Linked DNA regions of Homo sapiens: region 1 is linked to region 2. The links come from fine-mapping of genetic effects on gene expression. A gene starts in region 2. The other region holds a variant in brackets. All regions are shown on one strand. Distances are from middle to middle. Region 1 overlaps BOP1 (BOP1 ribosomal biogenesis factor). Region 2 holds the start of CATSPERQ (catsper channel auxiliary subunit theta).

The links. PIP is the estimated chance that this variant, and not a neighbour inherited with it, causes the effect.
Region 1: its variant is fine-mapped to the expression of CATSPERQ in T cells (TOPMed, PIP 0.98).

Annotation. Positions count from the first base shown.
Region 1 is chr8:144,266,526-144,274,835 of GRCh38, forward strand. All of the region lies in intron 3 of BOP1 (BOP1 ribosomal biogenesis factor), which reads right to left. It overlaps SCX (scleraxis bHLH transcription factor), which reads left to right. Exons shown (of 2, transcript NM_001080514.3): 1 at 1-655; 2 at 1,579-1,956. The coding sequence starts at 89. The coding sequence ends at 1,617. Among named protein-coding and RNA genes, the nearest start is that of SCX, 4.2 kb to the left of the region's middle. RefSeq lists silencers at 1-51, 4,412-4,581, 8,220-8,310 and enhancers at 297-1,064, 1,065-1,830, 4,476-5,119, 5,120-5,763. The variant C/T (reference allele first, on the strand shown) is at 3,785.
Region 2 is chr8:144,350,755-144,359,014 of GRCh38, forward strand. CATSPERQ (catsper channel auxiliary subunit theta) reads right to left here and starts at 4,177. Exons shown (of 6, transcript NM_001280561.2): 1 at 4,088-4,177; 2 at 3,863-4,013; 3 at 3,483-3,577; 4 at 3,200-3,395; 5 at 3,024-3,109; 6 at 2,474-2,773. The coding sequence starts at 4,013. The coding sequence ends at 2,594. FBXL6 (F-box and leucine rich repeat protein 6) reads right to left here and starts at 7,718. Exons shown (of 9, transcript NM_012162.4): 1 at 7,278-7,718; 2 at 6,874-7,032; 3 at 6,685-6,748; 4 at 6,236-6,367; 5 at 6,054-6,161; 6 at 5,846-5,959; 7 at 5,546-5,777; 8 at 5,214-5,460; 9 at 4,677-4,924. The coding sequence starts at 7,693. The coding sequence ends at 4,777. It overlaps SLC52A2 (solute carrier family 52 member 2), which reads left to right and starts at 7,859. Exons shown (of 5, transcript NM_001363118.2): 1 at 7,859-8,260. RefSeq lists silencers at 3,618-3,727, 7,441-7,660, 7,681-8,120 and an enhancer at 5,574-6,110.

The DNA.
Region 1 (8,310 bases), 84 kb before region 2:
CCCCGGCCGGCCCGCGAGGCCCGCGGCGGCCGCAGGAGGCGGCATGAGCAGCGCGCGACAGAGCTGACGCCGCGCCCCCGCCGGCCCCATGTCCTTCGCCACGCTGCGCCCGGCGCCGCCGGGCCGCTACCTGTACCCCGAGGTGAGCCCGCTGTCGGAGGACGAGGACCGCGGCAGCGACAGCTCGGGCTCCGACGAGAAACCCTGTCGCGTGCACGCGGCGCGCTGCGGCCTCCAGGGCGCCCGGCGGAGGGCGGGGGGCCGGCGGGCCGGGGGCGGGGGGCCAGGGGGCCGGCCAGGCCGTGAGCCCCGGCAGCGGCACACGGCGAACGCGCGCGAGCGAGACCGCACCAACAGCGTGAACACGGCCTTCACGGCGCTGCGCACGCTGATCCCCACCGAGCCCGCCGACCGCAAGCTCTCCAAGATTGAGACGCTGCGCCTGGCCTCCAGCTACATCTCGCACCTGGGCAACGTGCTGCTGGCGGGCGAGGCCTGCGGCGACGGACAGCCCTGCCACTCCGGGCCCGCCTTCTTCCACGCGGCGCGCGCCGGCAGCCCCCCGCCGCCGCCCCCGCCGCCTCCCGCCCGCGACGGCGAGAACACCCAGCCCAAACAGATCTGCACCTTCTGCCTCAGCAACCAGAGAAAGTTGGTGAGCACGGGCCGTGGGGCGCCGAGGGGGGCCTCCAACGCGCCCCTCAGCCCACACCTGCCAGGCAGAGGAGGCGAGGCCACACGGGCAGGGCTCCCCAACAGGGCACAGGCAGGCACACCTGTAACACAGGCCTGCCGGGGGCTGGGGCCTTCTCCTGGGGCTCCTCTCCAGGGCGTCCCTAGGACACTCGGCTCCCAGTGGAGTGTGGAGTCCCCTGCAGGGAGCTGCATGAGGGGTAAGAGCTAGGGATGGCCAAAGGGGCCCACCCAGGGCGGGGAGGCTGGGGAGCTGGACCAGGCCGCTGCAAGCTTCCCTTTTCAGTAAGTTGAAAGGCGGAGTGAAAACAGCTGAGTTCAGAAAGTAAGAGGCTGCAAGGCAAGAGAGGAAGGACCCCGGGTTCTTAGCCCCTGCGGCCCAGCACTGGCTTAAGCCATCTTGGGCACCTGCTGTCCGTCCCCCACCTAGGCCGCACACCAAGACACCAGGTCCTGTAGGGCTGCCCGAGACGTGGGCCATGGGACACGAAGGCAGAGGCTGGCAGGAGATGTGGGGGCTGGGGGTGAGGGCCCCTGCAGGAGACGCTGGCCAGCTGTGATTTACAGCTCCTGCTGTGCTTGGTGGCACCGGAAAAGCAGGGTGAGCAGGGAGAAAATACGGCACGGCTTTTCCCAATCCCCATTTCCTCTCCAGACAGCACGCGCGAGCTCCTGGGGCCTGAACATCTGGGAAATTTAATTTTACAATTTCGGCTGTGCAGCAGTATGCTCCCCTCCCCAAAACGCTTGAGGGAAGCTGGGGAGAGCCGGGAAGGAGGTGCCTTGGCGCTGGCCACCTGAGATGGCACCCAGCAGGGAGGCCAGAGAGGCGCAGACTGGCGCTGGGCTCTGCCGGGGCCTGACACTCCTCCCTCCCCTCTGCAGAGCAAGGACCGCGACAGAAAGACAGCGATTCGCAGTTAGGAGGTGGCCGGCAGCAGCCAGGAGGCAGACGCTGCTGGGGGAGGTGGACGCCCGGGGTGACTGCAGACAGCCCCCACCTTGGACCTGAGCTGGGCAAGGCCCACCGCAAGCATGCCCCCAGGCCAGCCCTGGCTGCGAGCGGGGCCGAGGGACAGACGGACGTACAGACAGGCGCCGGCAGCGGGACTCTGCGCTGGCCCCAGCACCTGCCCGGGCCCACTGGAACTTTCTGCGCTGGCTTTTCTTCCGGCCACTGTGTGATGGCATCTTGTGTTTTTGATATGATAATATAAAGTCTGAAAATTTTGTATAATTAAAAACAAAACAGTATCTTCCAAATATGGAGGCCAACTGTCCTCATGAAAGGTTCAGAATCCACCCCCAGCCCCCAGCCTGAGCCTCCATTCCCACCCTTGGTGGTCCCATCCTCCTTGGGCCAAGTACCCCGGCTCCCTGGGAAGCCCCCACTTTCCAGGCTCAGGGCCACCCCTCCCTGGGCTGAGGCGGTGAGGATGGGCTTAGCTCACCCACAGAGCCTCATATCGGGAAGCTGTGGGGTGGGGACAAGGGAGCCACGCCGGGAGAGAGGGTGGGGGAGGAGCTGCGTGGCAGAAGATGGGGAGGGCGAGGCACAAGGCAGGGACGCTGTAAGGCAGGGACAGGGAGGCAGCGGCAGGGACAGAGGCAGCAGCAGGGCAAGGGTGCCCCCGACTCGGGCCTGTCGGGCACCCGGGGGCCCTGAGGGTGAGGAGGGCGCTGCAGGTGGCCACAAGGAGTGGAGCGAGCTGTGCTGCCCAGCGGAGGGGGGGGCTCCCAGCCCCAGCGAGGGCAGTGGGTGTCCTGCCTCCACGAGCCTTGACTGGAGAGAGGGGCATCTCCTCATGCACCAGTGCCACTTGGCCCCTGGAAGCACTGCCCACGTGGGAAGGAGGACCCCTGGCCATCCTCCTCCCACCACCACGGCCCATCCAGCCCCCTGAAGACCCCGCCCACCACAGGAGGTGGGTTTAGCCCCCACAGTGCTCTGTGCACAGCTGGCTGGCCATTAAAACCCTGCAGGTGACAATTACCATTGAGTGGTGTGAGATCAGTGGGCACAGAGAGAAGAAGGGCGGTGCTGTGTGGACCACCTCCCCCCAACCCTGCCAGGCCACAGCCTAACTTCCGGCTGGGTGGACAATGGCTGATGGTGCCAGGTGCGGGCGTCAGGGCGGCGGCCGGCCCCAGTTCCCCGCTAGCACAGGCAGGGACGCACCCTCGGGGGGAGACCAGGTGCTGTGGCCCACGTGGGCATCGGTGCAGGGCTGGCCCAGGACTGCCCCTCCTCTGCAAAGACAGGCTCCAGGGAATGGCGGAGCAGGAAGCAGTGGTGTAATTTTGGAGGAAATTCTCAAAGCCAGAGCCATTAAGGGCTAGAGGGGGGCTGAGTCCAATCTGATAGAAATATAACAGGATAAAAAGTCACAACGGCAGGTTTCGTTCAGAGAGAAACCCAACCCCAAATTTCCTCTCCCTAATCCTGCAGGAGCCCACAGCTGGCCAGAGGGAGGGGAGGAGAGGACAAGCTCAGTCACTGCAGAAGCCTCCGCCCGCCGGGAAGCCAGGGCCCGGGGGACACGGACATGCAGCTAGGGGCTGACGCAGCCCCTTCCCTTCTTGGGAGCTTTCCTCACACCCCCGCCCCGCCACCCTCCCAGGCACCAAGGCGCTGGTGAGTGAGGAGCAGGGTGGACCCAGGAGCATGGCCAGGCCGGGCACTCTGCATAGCACCCTAAGGCCCACGGCGCCCACGCCAGCCCTCCCTCCACTGGGCACTGGGTGTAGTTCTGTAGGGAGGGTCCATAGCCCACCTACCCCTCACCTCCAGGCCTCCCATTTCCAGACCTGGGCCTAGTGGGGGTTGCAAACCTCCACATGAACCCCCAACCTCAGTGGCCGGTCAACGTTGGGGACAAATGGGATGGAAGATAGTGAAAGTCTCCAGGGCAGGGACATCAGGGGCTGCTGGCCTGAGCGGGCAGGTGCGGGGCGTCGGCGGCCGGCACCAAGGACAGGGCAGAGCCAGCTCAGAGCGGGAATGCAGGAGGCCAGACAGGAGCAGGTGGGAAGGTGCGGGCCAGCATGGGGAGGTCTGGGCAGGGTCAAGAGGGAGTGCAGGGGAAAGAGA[C/T]GTCAGAGCCCCCGTGGACTGGGGTCAGAGTTTGGGGTGTCTAACGAGGCTAGAAGAAAGTGAACAGGGAACAACGACCTGGAGGCCTCGGAGCTGAAAGGATCCCCAGGGCCCTGCTGGTTGGGGTGCAGCACTCACAGCCAAGCCCTCCGCTGCGGGCCTGACTCCGACCGCGGCTGCAGCTTGGCCAGCCTCAGGCCTGGGCAGCCAGCCCAGCCGCTCCCTGAGCTGCACCGGTAGCAGCGGCCGAGGGCCCGGCCCGCCAGCCAGCAAGAGGGGAGGGGCGGGGGAGGAACACTCCGTCACCCTCCACTGCTCCAGAAATTCAAACCAGACCGGGGGTGGCGTGGGCTGACCCCCAGGCCTGCGGCAGCCCACCCGAATCCACTCGTAGCTCACAGCCGCCGGGCAGACGAGTGGCAGGTGCTCCCTGCCCACCACAGCCCCTGGCTCCCTTCCCAGAGTGCTGGCCTCACCTCCACAGAGACCCAGGGCTCCCTCCGCCTGTGCCCCACAGAGGCAGCTGGGACGGAAGGGGCCCCAGCCTGCACCCTGGGCCAGCAGCCGCCCCTGCGAGCCGAGCTGGGCTGGAAACGCTCTGCTGGGCCTCAGCTGTCAGCTCCTGTCCCCGGCCTGGGGAACGAGCTGCTGGCGGGACACATGATTCATCACGGTCGCCTGCGCCCACCACCCGCCCCGCCCAGCGCAGCACCTGCGGGCTGCCAGGAAACACATGTGACCCCTCCGGGTCAGGCCCCGCACGGAGAGCCCCGGCCGGCCGGCCGGGGGCACACACAGACCCAGCATCAGGGCTCTCCTGGGGGCCGCCCAGCCCCAAGGACAGGCCCCCAGCCCAGACTGCACCGGACACAGGCCGCAACCGGCTGATGTGTCGGCTGGGATTTTTCCGCTCTCGATGAGCCCCCTTCCCTCCCCCTCCCCAAAGTGGCTGCAGCTGTCAGGACCACAGATTGGAACTGCAGGTATGGGGCTGGCCCGCTGCCCGCCTCCTCCCGTGTCTGTCTGCGAGAGAGGAAGCCGGCCCACCTCTGGAATCCTTCACTCTCTCCTCGTTCCGCCTCTCCCACCTGTCCCCCGGGAGCGTGGGGTCAGCCGCCCTCGCTCCGTCTCTCTCTTCCCCAGCCCCTCTCCGATTACAATGCGGGTAGTGTTCAGCGTTCGCGCCGCTCCCCTGCACAAAACGCCCGCCTGTCTCGGAGCGCCACACGGCCTTCCTGTGCGACGTGAGGCCGCCTCCTCTTCCTCAGGGTTTTATCTGTTGAAGTGCTCAGGGCAAGGCCAGGGCGGGAGGCTCACCTGCTGCATCTCACCCTACTGAAGGTTCCAGCAGGGGTGCTGGGCCCTGGCGCCGGGGCCAGAGGGGAGAAAGCCAGGTCCTGCTTAGTCTCCTCCTCCTCAAAGTCCAAACCAGCTGAGCGAACCCCCAGCCCAAGGTGGGGCCCCAGGCAGGAGGAGCCACCAGCCCAGACGCCCTCAGCTCCGGCCCGGCTCCCGCCAACCACGCATCTGCCCTTCTAGAGGCTGGGCACACAGCTCGGCCTTCTCCCGGCACCTCCACCACTGGAGAGAAGCCACTACTGACCCAGGGGTCCTTGCACCTCCACAGCTGGGAGGGCAGCAAGTCACCTCCTGGGGGTCTGCAGGCTGGAGAGAAGCCACTACCGACCCAGGGGTTCCTCCAGACCTGGCCTGCCTCGGTCTCTGCTGGGGCTGACCCAGGGACAATAGCTGTTCCCAGGCAGAGCACCCCAACGCCTGGCATCTCATAAGCAGGGGCTCCCAGAAACCAGGATGCTAGGGGTGGGGCACAGGCTTGGGGCATGACACCCCAAACACCCCCCACCGACACCCACCAGTGCTCACCCCTCCTCGGCCTGCTCTGAGCCCCACAACTCAGAGCTACAACTTCCAGGTGGGGTGGGGACAGGGCTCTAGAGGTCCACACCCGCTCAGCCCCCAACTCCGGACACCTCCAAAATCTCATTCTGGAGACTTTTCCCCCAGTCCTGATCCGTGCACACACACGTACCTGGGACTCCCGTCCCCTGCAGAACAGCCCCGGCCTTGGGACGTACACCCAGACCCAGCTCTCCCCAGCCGGCCTCCCCAGAGGGCCCAGAGCCTGCAGCCGTCACCACCTGCCCAACAGACCTTGCCCTCCAATGCCTTCCCCGGCTCCACTCCACAGGCTGCTCTGCCAGCCCCAGGGCAAAGCCTCCGCTCAAGAGCCCTGTAGAGCACCCCCCGCTGCCCACCCGGGTTCCAGCTGCCAAGGACACTGGCCCCGAGTGGGCACAGCAGGCCAGGGCCCCCACCACCCTTGCAGCCCACAAGCAGGAGGACGCGGCTCTGAAGAGGCCACTCCCACCTACCAGCCACTGCCCAGCCCTGCTTCATCCGAGAGCCCAGGGTACCCCCATGAGGGCCCTGGCTTCCCTGCCCCTCATCACTGACCCCAGGGTCTCTCCTCTCCCAAACCGGACAACTGAGTGCAGCAGGCCAGGCCTAGGAGGGCCTTCAAGCCGGCCAAGGGGCACGCGGCAGTCAGGCTACACACACCCACCCACAGCCTGGGTAGCAGGGCGCGCCCGTTTCCCTCCTCAGTGGAAAGGGACCAGACCCGAGGGCCAGCCCCAGCCCAGTCAGCAGCCCCCTCGGAGGCAGGCATGCAGGCGGCCGCGGGGGTGGATGGCCGCCAGGGAGATTGGGGCGGTCTGCAGGCCCGGGCGCCCTCCACAAGCAGCGTGGGGAGGGCCGTTCGCTCGCCGGGAAACCTGAGCCGAGGCCGCGCCGCCAGCAGCGACGCAAGCCTGAGTGCGCGGGGCCAGGACGCGGGGGCGGGGGCGGCCCGGAGGAGCGGAGGCCGCCAGCACTGGAGGCAGCTGCCGGTTCAGTAGCTGGGAGAAGCCATTAACGGCGCTTGGCGCGAGAGCAGAGGGGACCACGGGCTCTGGACGCAGACAGGCCCGGCTGCATCCCTGCGGGAACCTGACTCACAGCCCAGGCAGGGTCAGGGGCACCGAGGAGCTGCCAGGCTGCACCCCAGCCCCAGACTCCAGACTCCAGTGGAGGCCTCGTGGGGGACGGCCCCAGGCCAGCACCACGGGGCACAGGAAAGGGACAGCAGAGGGCGGCTCCTCCGGCCAGAGTGGACGGCCACCCAGATCCCTCAGCCTGCTACGCTTTCCTGACAAACACGGCCACAGGCAGGGGGAGGGTGGGTGGCTGCATCCTCTGCCTGAGCAGCCACCCGGCCTCAGTTTCTCCCAACCGCTCAAATCAAAGCGGAGGGGCTGCTTCGGCAAAGGCCGAGAGCCCCCTTGCCCCGCCCCTCCACCCCGGCCCACCTCCCCGGGGGTCCCAGCGGCTGGATGAGATCACGTCTGTGAAGCTCCAGGCGCGGTGGGAGAGGGGTGAGGTGGCCATGCGGGGGCGGGGCAGCCGCAGCTCAGCCGGCTCCTGGGGGCCCCCCACTGCCGGCGGCAGGACCCCAGCCAGGCCCAGCGCCTCCTCCAGGGGCTCCGCCCGCCTCCCTCCGCCTGCTCGCTGCTGCCTGCGCACCTGGGGGAGGGGAATAAGACACCAAGAGCTGGAGTACAGCTCTCCTGTGAGGGGCTGCTCAGGTCTTCAAAAGTCAGCGTCCAGCAGGGGGTCCCTGAAGCCCCAGTGTCATCCAGGTCCAGGCCCTGGATCCAGACCCAGGAAGGGCAGGGAAGTGGCCTGAGGAGAAGGGGAGGTAGGTGGGCAGGGGGTGGCAGGGAGGCACCTCCCACCAGCAGGAGCTTGGCCCGAGACCTTCTCAGCATCACAGCCACTGCCACCCACGCGCTCCAGCTGAGATCGCCGCTCGCAGGAGCACACGCCCCAGCGGCGCCCTCCCTGCCCTGCTACCAGGGGCCCTCTCCACAGCCCTGAAGGGCCCCGGCAGTGAGGTCGGCCCTCTCTCAGCCAGCTCTGCCCAGTGCCGAGGAGGACCATGGTCCTGGTGCCACGGCCACCTCCAAGGACACGGGGCTGCCTGACGGGCCCTGCTCTCCTCACCCCACTGTCTCATGGGAGAGCTGCAGGCTGTCTCCCACCTCCCAAGCCTCTTTCCTGCCCACCTGTGGCCCCAAATCACTCCCCTAGGGCCACCCCACTTTGCTCCAAGGGAACAGAGGCCCAGGCAGATGCGCACTTCTCTGGACGGGAGGCATCTGTCCGGGCCTGGCCTGGCTCCTGAAAGCTGAGCTCTGCCGCCCCCTCGAGCCACTGGCCGGCTGTGCTGGCAGGAGCACCGGGCAGCACCCGGGCTCCCTCGCTGTCACTCAGACCAACATATGGGATAGTCATCACTGGAGGAAGCAGCCCCCACATCCCTGGCCGGCTTCCTCCCAGCACAGCAGGGGGCTGCCCACCCGGCAGGCGGCGGTGGCACTGGACAGGCCTGGCAAAGCACCCCCAGGGGCAGCAGGGTCCCACAGGCCCCGCCGAGGCCCCTCCCCCGGCCTCCGCGCTCCGTTTAC
Region 2 (8,260 bases):
TGCCAGAGCTCCATCCTTGGCCCTCCTCCTGTTCTCCCCCATCTTCTGCGTTGCCAGAGACATCTCATCTAGTGCTTTAGCTTTAGGGACCTCCCAGGGCATGATGGTTTCAGGTCTGTGCTTCCCCCTTTCCTTTCTCCCCAGGGCCTTTCTGCCTTTTCAAAATCTCCCCCACAAGGTCCTGTAAGCTCCTCAGGCCTTGTCTAATTCAGAACTCCTGACTGCCAACCCCTCTCCCCATAGCCACCAGCCCCAGTGCCCAGGCCAGACACTCTGGACTCCCGAGTCACTTTTCTTCCCAGCCCACTTCCCGCCCAGCAGCAAATCCCCTCCACGGAGCCGGAGCTCAGAACTGTCTGTGGTCCTTGCTCCTCTCTGTTCCCCTCTGCCCCTCCAGCTCCCTTTCCTCCGTGCACAATTCCTGCAGCCTCCTGGCCTTTCCCCACCGCTCCCTCCCTGGGTCTTAGTGCATATCTGCTTACAGCTCTCCAGCAGATTCCCATGGCACACAGGACTAAAGCTCTGAGCTATGGCCTCCAAGGACGCTGCCTGCCCTTCCCACCTCATCTCAGGCCTCCTTCTCCCTTGTCCTCTCTACTCTGACCAGCCCAATCCCCTTGCAGCTTCTCCAGCACACCCAGCTCAGTCCTATATCACGCCCTTGTGTTGTGTTTACTCTTTGCCCACGATGCCCTTCCCCCAAAGCTCCCCAGCCAGAGGGACCCTGCCCCTCCAACCACTCTTCATTCTGGGTCCCTCTTAGATCACCAGCTCCAGGGAGGAGGGACTTTGCCTGCCTGAGTGAAACAGAGCCCTCAACCCAAACCTAAGTTTGGTGCTGCCACTGTAGGACACCTTGAGCCCCATCTTCTGGGGAGTGGAGGTCCCTGCACTTGTGCTGTTAATGACAATTGCTTCCAGGGATTACCTAAAGCCACTTCAGTAGCCCCCAGATCCTGCCCCAGAGATGGGCCAGGGTGCCTGTGTGCCCAGTGAGTTTTGAGCAGCCTTGGGATTGGGGGTCAAGTAGAGACTCTAAGTCATGGTTCCAGGCAGAACTGGCTTCACGAGCCTGCAACCTGGGCAGTCACACAGGGCCCCAGGCTCAGAAAGGCCCCATACTTGAGTTTTTGTTGCTGTTGTTGTTGTCGTTGTCGTTTTGGGACAGAGTCTCACTCTGTCACCCAGGCTGGAGTGCAATGGCTCAATCTCCGCTCACCCGCAACCTCTGCCTCCCAGGTTCAAGCGATTCTATTCCTTCAGCCTCCCGAGTAGCTGAGATTGCAGGGATGCACCACCACACCCAGCTAATTTTATATTTTTAGTAGAGACAGGGTTTCACCATGTTGGTCGGGCTGGTCTTGAACTCCTGACCTCAGATGATCCGCCCGCCTTGGCCTCCCAAAGTGCTGGGATGACAGGCGTGAGCCACCATGCCCAGTCTATCTTGAAATTCTTAATAACTTTATTTTTATTTTTATTGTTTATTTTATTAGAGACTGGGGTCTCACTATGTTGTCCAGGCTAGCCTTGAACTCCTGGGTTTAAGCTGTCCTCCCACCTTAGCCTCCTGAGCAGCCGAGACTACAGGTATACACCACTGCACCCCACTTATTAACTTCCTAACAATGGGCTCCAAATTTTCATTTGGCATGGGACCCTGCAAATTATGTAGCTGCTCCTGGTTGCAGGGACGTTCAGCTGATAATGCCTGAAGATCCGGAGAGCCAGGTCCTGCTTTCCCTGGGACCCCATGGCCCACAGCCTTCTCGGCTTCCACAACAGCCCCCAGCACTCAGGAGGCCTCAGGTGCTGCAGTGATAGCTGGGGGATCCACTGGACAGGAGAGTGTGGGCCTGGGGTTCCAGCAGGCACAGCAAGTGGGTGTCAGGGGCGCAGGCCTGGGGTTCCAGTGGGCACGGTGAGCGGGTGTCAGGGGCGCGGGCCTGGGGTTCCAGCGGGCATGGCGAGCGGGTGTCAGGGCACTGCACATCCTCCCTCCTAGGAGGCCCTGCACCCTGGCCCGGGACTCTTGTGCCCACCCCCTTGGAGGCAAGCGGCAGCAGCTTTGTGGGTACTGGGGCAAGCATGCACCCCAGGCACAGGGCTTGTTCTCTGGCCGCACCCCACCCCATTGCTGGTTGGAGTAGCAGCAGGCACCGGGTCCAGAATGGGCCAGATTCTGACTCCTGGATTCCACGCATTGGTCAGCACCTCTGAGGTCAGGTAGGACAAGTTAAGTGCTGCTGGCTAAGAGGGGATGGAGTTCCCAGCCTCTCTAGTGATGGGCCGAACCTCAGAGGCCTGGCTATATGCCATCCCTTGCTCTCAGCTGTTCCTGTCTTCGAACACAAGCTGTGGGGTTTGCTTCAGTCAGCTGGAAGGCACAGGCTCTCTGAGGTCCTAGGAGTGCGCAACAGTGGAAGACCTAGGCACCAGAGGGCCTCCCCTGCCCCCTAAAATGATCCGTGTGGAAGCTGAGGCAGCTTTATTGAAAGGAAGGCCAGTGAGTGGGACTCACATTTGATCTGCCCCAGAGTGGGGCTGGGAGGTTACCGAGAACACAGTCCCGAGGTGGGGGAGGCCCTCAGAGTCACACCTCCAGGCTGGACTGAGAGGAGCTGGGCTTGTGACCCATGGGGCTCTTGCCCATCACAGTGCCAGCGCCAGGGGGTGGCCAGTGGCGAACCACGTGCCGGTAGGAGGTGGCCAGGTAGTCGAAGTAGTTGATGTTGAGTTTCCGGGCGATGTAACGGCCCAAGTATTCCATTTGCTGTGGGAGCAGGTGGCGCTCAACTGGGGCCGGGACAGGACAGACCCGAGTCGCCGTCCAGGCGTCTCCTTCCCCTACCAGGCTGCATCCCCCGTCCTGCCCGAAGCCCCGGCGCCCTCTCCACGGCCCCCAGCACCGAAGACCGTGTTGTATTTACCCTCTGCGTGCGGAAACGGCCCCACCCAAAGACCTTAAACAGTGATCGGTGTCATCGTGTCCTGAGGAGGGCGCGTGTCTGGGCGGGACCCACCTCGTAGTGCTCCGACAGCTGCACCAGCACCAGGGGCTCCAACCTGTGGCCGCCGAGGACCAGGTGGAAGAAGCACCTTCCGTGGGCTGCGGGGAGAGCGGACTTAGCCAGCCTGGCCGCCCCTCCGACCTCCCAAGCTGCCTCCCCGTCCCTGGCGCACCCTCCCGGCCCGTTACCATCGGAGCTGAGCGCCAGGCGCACGTAGACCAGATGCAAGGGGCCCTGGCACACGGTGCGGCCCTGGATGGAGAAGTGGTACACGCCGCGCGTGTGGTTCAGCACCAGGCGGCGCCGCGGCAGCGACGAGATCACGAGCCACAGGCCCACGCCCACGCCGTACACGAGGAAGACCCAGGTCTCTTGCTTCTGCACCTGCGGGCGCCACGCGGAGAGTCTGAGCGGCGCGGGGCCGGCCCTCAGGGGAGGAGGGCGGTGGGGGTCGGGCCCAGGGGCTCACACCTCTCTCAGGGAGCTGAAGCTGACCAGGACCACGCTGATGATGAAGAGCAGCATCCCCTTCCACAGTGTGTCCAGGTAGTATTCGAGCACGAAGACTGGGGGTGGCGCGGCGCGTGAGGACGCCCCGGCCCTGCCCGCAGCCGGGGGTGGCGGTGCCAAGGCTTGGCCCGGACTAGCTGGGTCCGCGCAGGGCTCGCGGAGGCGACGTCTCGCCTGCGGCCTCTCCGTCCCCAGGAGCACCGGCCGGCCCCACCCAGGGCCCTGGCCCTGCCTCTGCCCACCTGGCTCCGCCCCATTCAGGCCTCGGGCCCGTCTCCCTCCTCCCCCGCCCCGCCCTTCCCAGCCCCGCCCCGCCCCGCCCCGCCCAGCCTCGCGCGCACCGTTTGGCTCCTGCTGCACGAATGGGTAGAAGCTATTGTTCTTGAGGCGTCTGGCCAGGTGGCGCTCCGGGCAGGTGAGTCCTAGGAACCAGAGCTGGAAGCGCCAGCCGATGGAGGTCGTGGGCAGGCTGCCGGCCCGGCCCTTAGGCATCTGAGTCAGGCAGAGGTGGTCAGCCTGGCCGCTCGTCCGCTGCCGCCGCCCACTGCCCACAGCGGCACTCCTACCTCGGTGAGCAAATTCTCCAGGGCTGCAGGCCCAGGAAGGAGCAGGAGCTCACAGGCGACTGACAGGGCAGCGAGGCCAGGGAGCGGCCCAGGGTGGACCGCGGATGGGTTCTAGAAGTTCTGGGCAGGTTCTAGAAGGGGCTGCTCTGTTGACCACCTCTTAGGGAGTCCAGGGTGAGGTCCTGCGGTAGGCATTAACTTCTTGGCCAGTCCATCCACTGGAGGCCCCCTGTATGGCCTGTTCACAGTCCCCATGTGAAGGGTGGATGGGTGGACACCCTAGGCCTGAGCTGGAGAGAAATTTGCAGGCGGCGACCACTCAGTGAGCCCCACAGCTGGGCGGGGCCCCACCCCCTCCCACCCCCCACCCACATGCAACCACAGACAAGCTCACCAGTGTCCCCGAGGACGGAACACACACACTGGACCCAGCAGTGGGCAGGCAAAGGCATGGCCACCTGCAGGCTCAAGAGCCCATGGGACCACCCTGACCCCACAACACACAGGCTCTGGGCCGGCTGTAGCCCCAGTGGCTCCATCAGGTATAACCTGTTGCCCAACCCTACCCTGAGGACCACACACACAGAACTCCTAAAAATGTTTTATTTTAACAAAATGCTCAAATATCTGAAATTGGGCAAAGGTGGAGGGTGGGCAAGCTGGCTGAGGTGTCCCAGGTCTGTGGCTGCCTAGCTGGGTGAGGGGCTGGTGAGCAGCTGCTCCAGACACCACTGGACTTCCTCCAGGCCCCGGTAGGCCCGCTTCAGACCCCGGGGAAGGCAGCGGCAGGACTCCAGGTTGAGGTAGAGCAGGCCCGGGCAGCCGCTGATCACAGAGCTGTGGGGAGGGCAGACCACAGGAAGTTGAGCTGTTGCCTCAGAAGGGCTGGGCCAGGCTAGGGAGCTGTGCCTGCTGGTGTTCGACACCTGGCTCTGCCACCCATAGCCACCAAGGCCAAGCCCAGTTCCCCTGGTGTCCTCAGGCCCACCCCACGCAGGGGCTTGGACAGTATGCATGCCCCTCTGACCCCTGGAGGTCTCAGGCCAGGCAGGACACAACTTCCAGGCCCCAGGCAGACACAGTGACAGCCACACTGGCTCCAGGGACTGGGGTAGGGGATGCTGACCTGACAGTGCTTGGTGTGACCCGGGTGCCCCTGAGGTTAAGAGAGCACAGGGCTGGGTGTGAGCCCCCAGGGGTGCTTAAGAAGGCAGCCAGGGCCTGCTCCAGGTCCTTCTCACTGAACCCCTGGCCACTCAAGTCCAGTTCTCGCAGTGTATGGCACCACTTCTGGGTCAAAAAGGGGCTGCCCTCCTTGGCTAGAGTCAGCCGGTCTGACGTGCCATACAGGCCCAGATGAAGCTGCTCCAGCTCTGCAGTGAAAGGAGTGAGCATAAGCTACAAGGTGACAAGGGCCCCCACACCTCACCCGCCCGGCCACCACCCAGGACTGCTGACCCCGACATGGCAGATCCTGAAGGCCAGCCGGCGTGATGCGCGCACAGCCACGAAGATCCAGTAAGCGCAGGTTGGGAGAGCCGTGGAGTAGGCGGCCCAGGACCTCGTTGCTCACAAAGTTGCAGGTTGAGCTCGCCAGGCAGAGCTCCTCTAGGCTAGGGAAGCCTGGTCCGGGAGCCACCCCTCGTCCCGGAGGCTTGGGCAGCCACATCAGGTTCAACAGCCGCAGCACCTGGGGGCAAGGTCCAGGCTGTAGATGGGGGAGGGTGTGACAGGTGGGAGAGGCAGGGCGCCAGGTACCTGGAGCTGAGGGCAGCCTTTCTGCAGAGCCTCGACAGGCAGCTGAAGGGGAATGCTATTACGGTTGATGCCGGTGCTCACCTCCAGGACCTGGAGCTGGGGGCAGCAGCTGCCCTGCAGAGATGGGGGGAGGGGGTAGGTCACAGGGTCAGTGGCCTGGCAGTCCCCAGCTCAGCATCTGCCTCTGCTCCCACCAATGCCAACTTACCAGCAGTGCGCCCAGGATGGCTGTCGTCTGGGAGCTGTAGGTCAGCCACAACTTGCGCATTCGGGACCCTGCCTCCTCCAAGAAGCTCACCACAGCTGTGGACTCCACCTGGGGCCCCAATACAAGAGCACCCGTCACCCCGGCCTGGGTTTTTTCAGGGCCCCTTGGGACACAGGGCTCACCATGGAGTGCTGTAGGTCCAGGCTATGGAGCTGGCAGCAGGCTTTGGCTAGCATGACCAGAGCGTCAGCAGTCACACCGTGGCAGCCGGAGAGCTTGAGGAAAGTGAGCCGAGGACAGCACTCACCTACCAGCTGCGGGGAGACAGAGGGGCAGCTGGGGTTGGGAGACGACAGGCTAAGATCCACAAGGGAAACAGACAAGTGGCTGGTGCCAACCCCACTCTACCGCCTTAGCTGTGACCTCCTTTCTGCCCATGCCAGGCCTACTTGGGTGTCCCCGCCTCTGATACCTCCCTGCTGGAGGAAACAGCAGGAAAAGAGAACCAGGCAGGCAGGCAGACATCCCCACGGAGCAGCGTTGGGCCCCCAAGGTGCCTGACCCACTTCCTAGAGTACTGAACAGTCCCAGAGTGTCACAGCTGATGTGCAGGACAGCCTGGAGCTCTCACCTTCAACACGGGGTGTACCTGAGACTTCCAGTGGATGAGGGTCAGCCTCTGGAGCTGTGAAAACCTGGGCCGACAGCGGAGGCAGAGCTGCACTAATGTTCCCACACGAGTCCTTCCCACCCAACACCTTGGTGCAGGGAGACGGAAGGAGCCTGGAGCCAGGGGTAAGGAAGAGAGGGAACCCCTCACCGATTGGGCATAAGCCACTCCAGGGAAGCAAGGAGCTTCTTCTCCGCCTTGACCCCGCCCTTGGCAGGCCGGCCGACCAGCGGGGACGACAGGGTCACGGTGTGCCAGAGCGCGGGTTGGGAAGCGGCCTCCTGCCAGCGGCGGCACACGCGCGCAGCCCTGGGAGGACAGCGTGCTGAGGGTGCCGGCCCCTCCGTAGGCGATGCCCCCCTCTCGCAGCGCAGTAGACACCCCGGCTCAAAGCCGGGCTCCTGGGACTCCAACTGGGCGCCTAAGGGGCTGCGCTCTCGGACTGAGCGGTGCGCGCTCCGATGCTTTCGCCCTCCGCCCCCGCCCGGGCCACCGCTCGGACCACGTCTGGCCCAAGCCGCTACGCTCGGCGGCGGGCCCGGCACCAGCGTTACCTGCCCAGGAAGGGCATGGGGCCGTCCGCCGCCACCAACAACCCGAAAATCTGCACCAGGATTTCCAAGGGAATGCGGTCTCCCCAGCCCGCGTCGGGCCCTTCCTCGGGCGTGGGCGTGGGTGCCGGTGCGGGTGCGGGCGCGGCCGCCGCCTCGGACCTGAGCCCGGCCTTGGGCTTGGCCGCGGCGCTGGGGCCCCGGGGCGGCTGCCGGGGAGTGCGGCGGGAAGCGCGCCGCTGTGCGCGGGGCCGGGCGGGGCCGGGTTCGGACAGCACCAGCAGCATGCTGTCGGACTGCAGCAGGTGGTACCCCGAGCCCCTCGGCGCCAGCCGGTCCCACCACCAGTCCTCGGCCGAGCGGGGCCGCGGCGCTGCCCGGGCTCTGCGTCGGACCTGCCGGGAGGCTGGGGCAGCCATGACCACCGACGGCGCTCGGGGAAGCCCCAGGGAGCGGAACGGGCGAGGCTTATAGACCGACAACCCCCCGGTTCCTCTCAACGCCCGCCCGCCCGCCGACCAGCTTCCGGGGCGGGACTTCCGGTCGTGGGCCATGCCGGGGGCGGGCCCGGAACCGCCACGGGTGAGTCGGGTCGTGGCTGCTGCCGGGTCCTGCGCGCTCCGGACTGAGGTGGCGTCCCTGGGCCGGACGGCGGTGTCCCGGCGTGGCGGGAAGCCGGCACTGGAGCGGGAGCGCACTGGGCGCGGGACCGGGAGGCGCAGGGACCGGACGGCTCCCGAGTCGCCCACCTGACGGTACCGAGAGGGCGGCGCCCCTCCGAGCAGAGCCGTCCCGGCCACTCCCCTGGGATCTGACTTGGCTCTTGCGGTCGCGGGCACCGTGAAGCCCTGGGGTGTGCGTGGCTCCTCCTGGTAGGCGCCCTTTCCCGGCGTCCGGCTTGGGGTGGTGGTGGCGTTGACTCCAGCCCCGCCTCTCCCTGGAGAGGAGGGCTCCACTCGCTCCTTCGGCCTCCTCCCCTGGGGCCG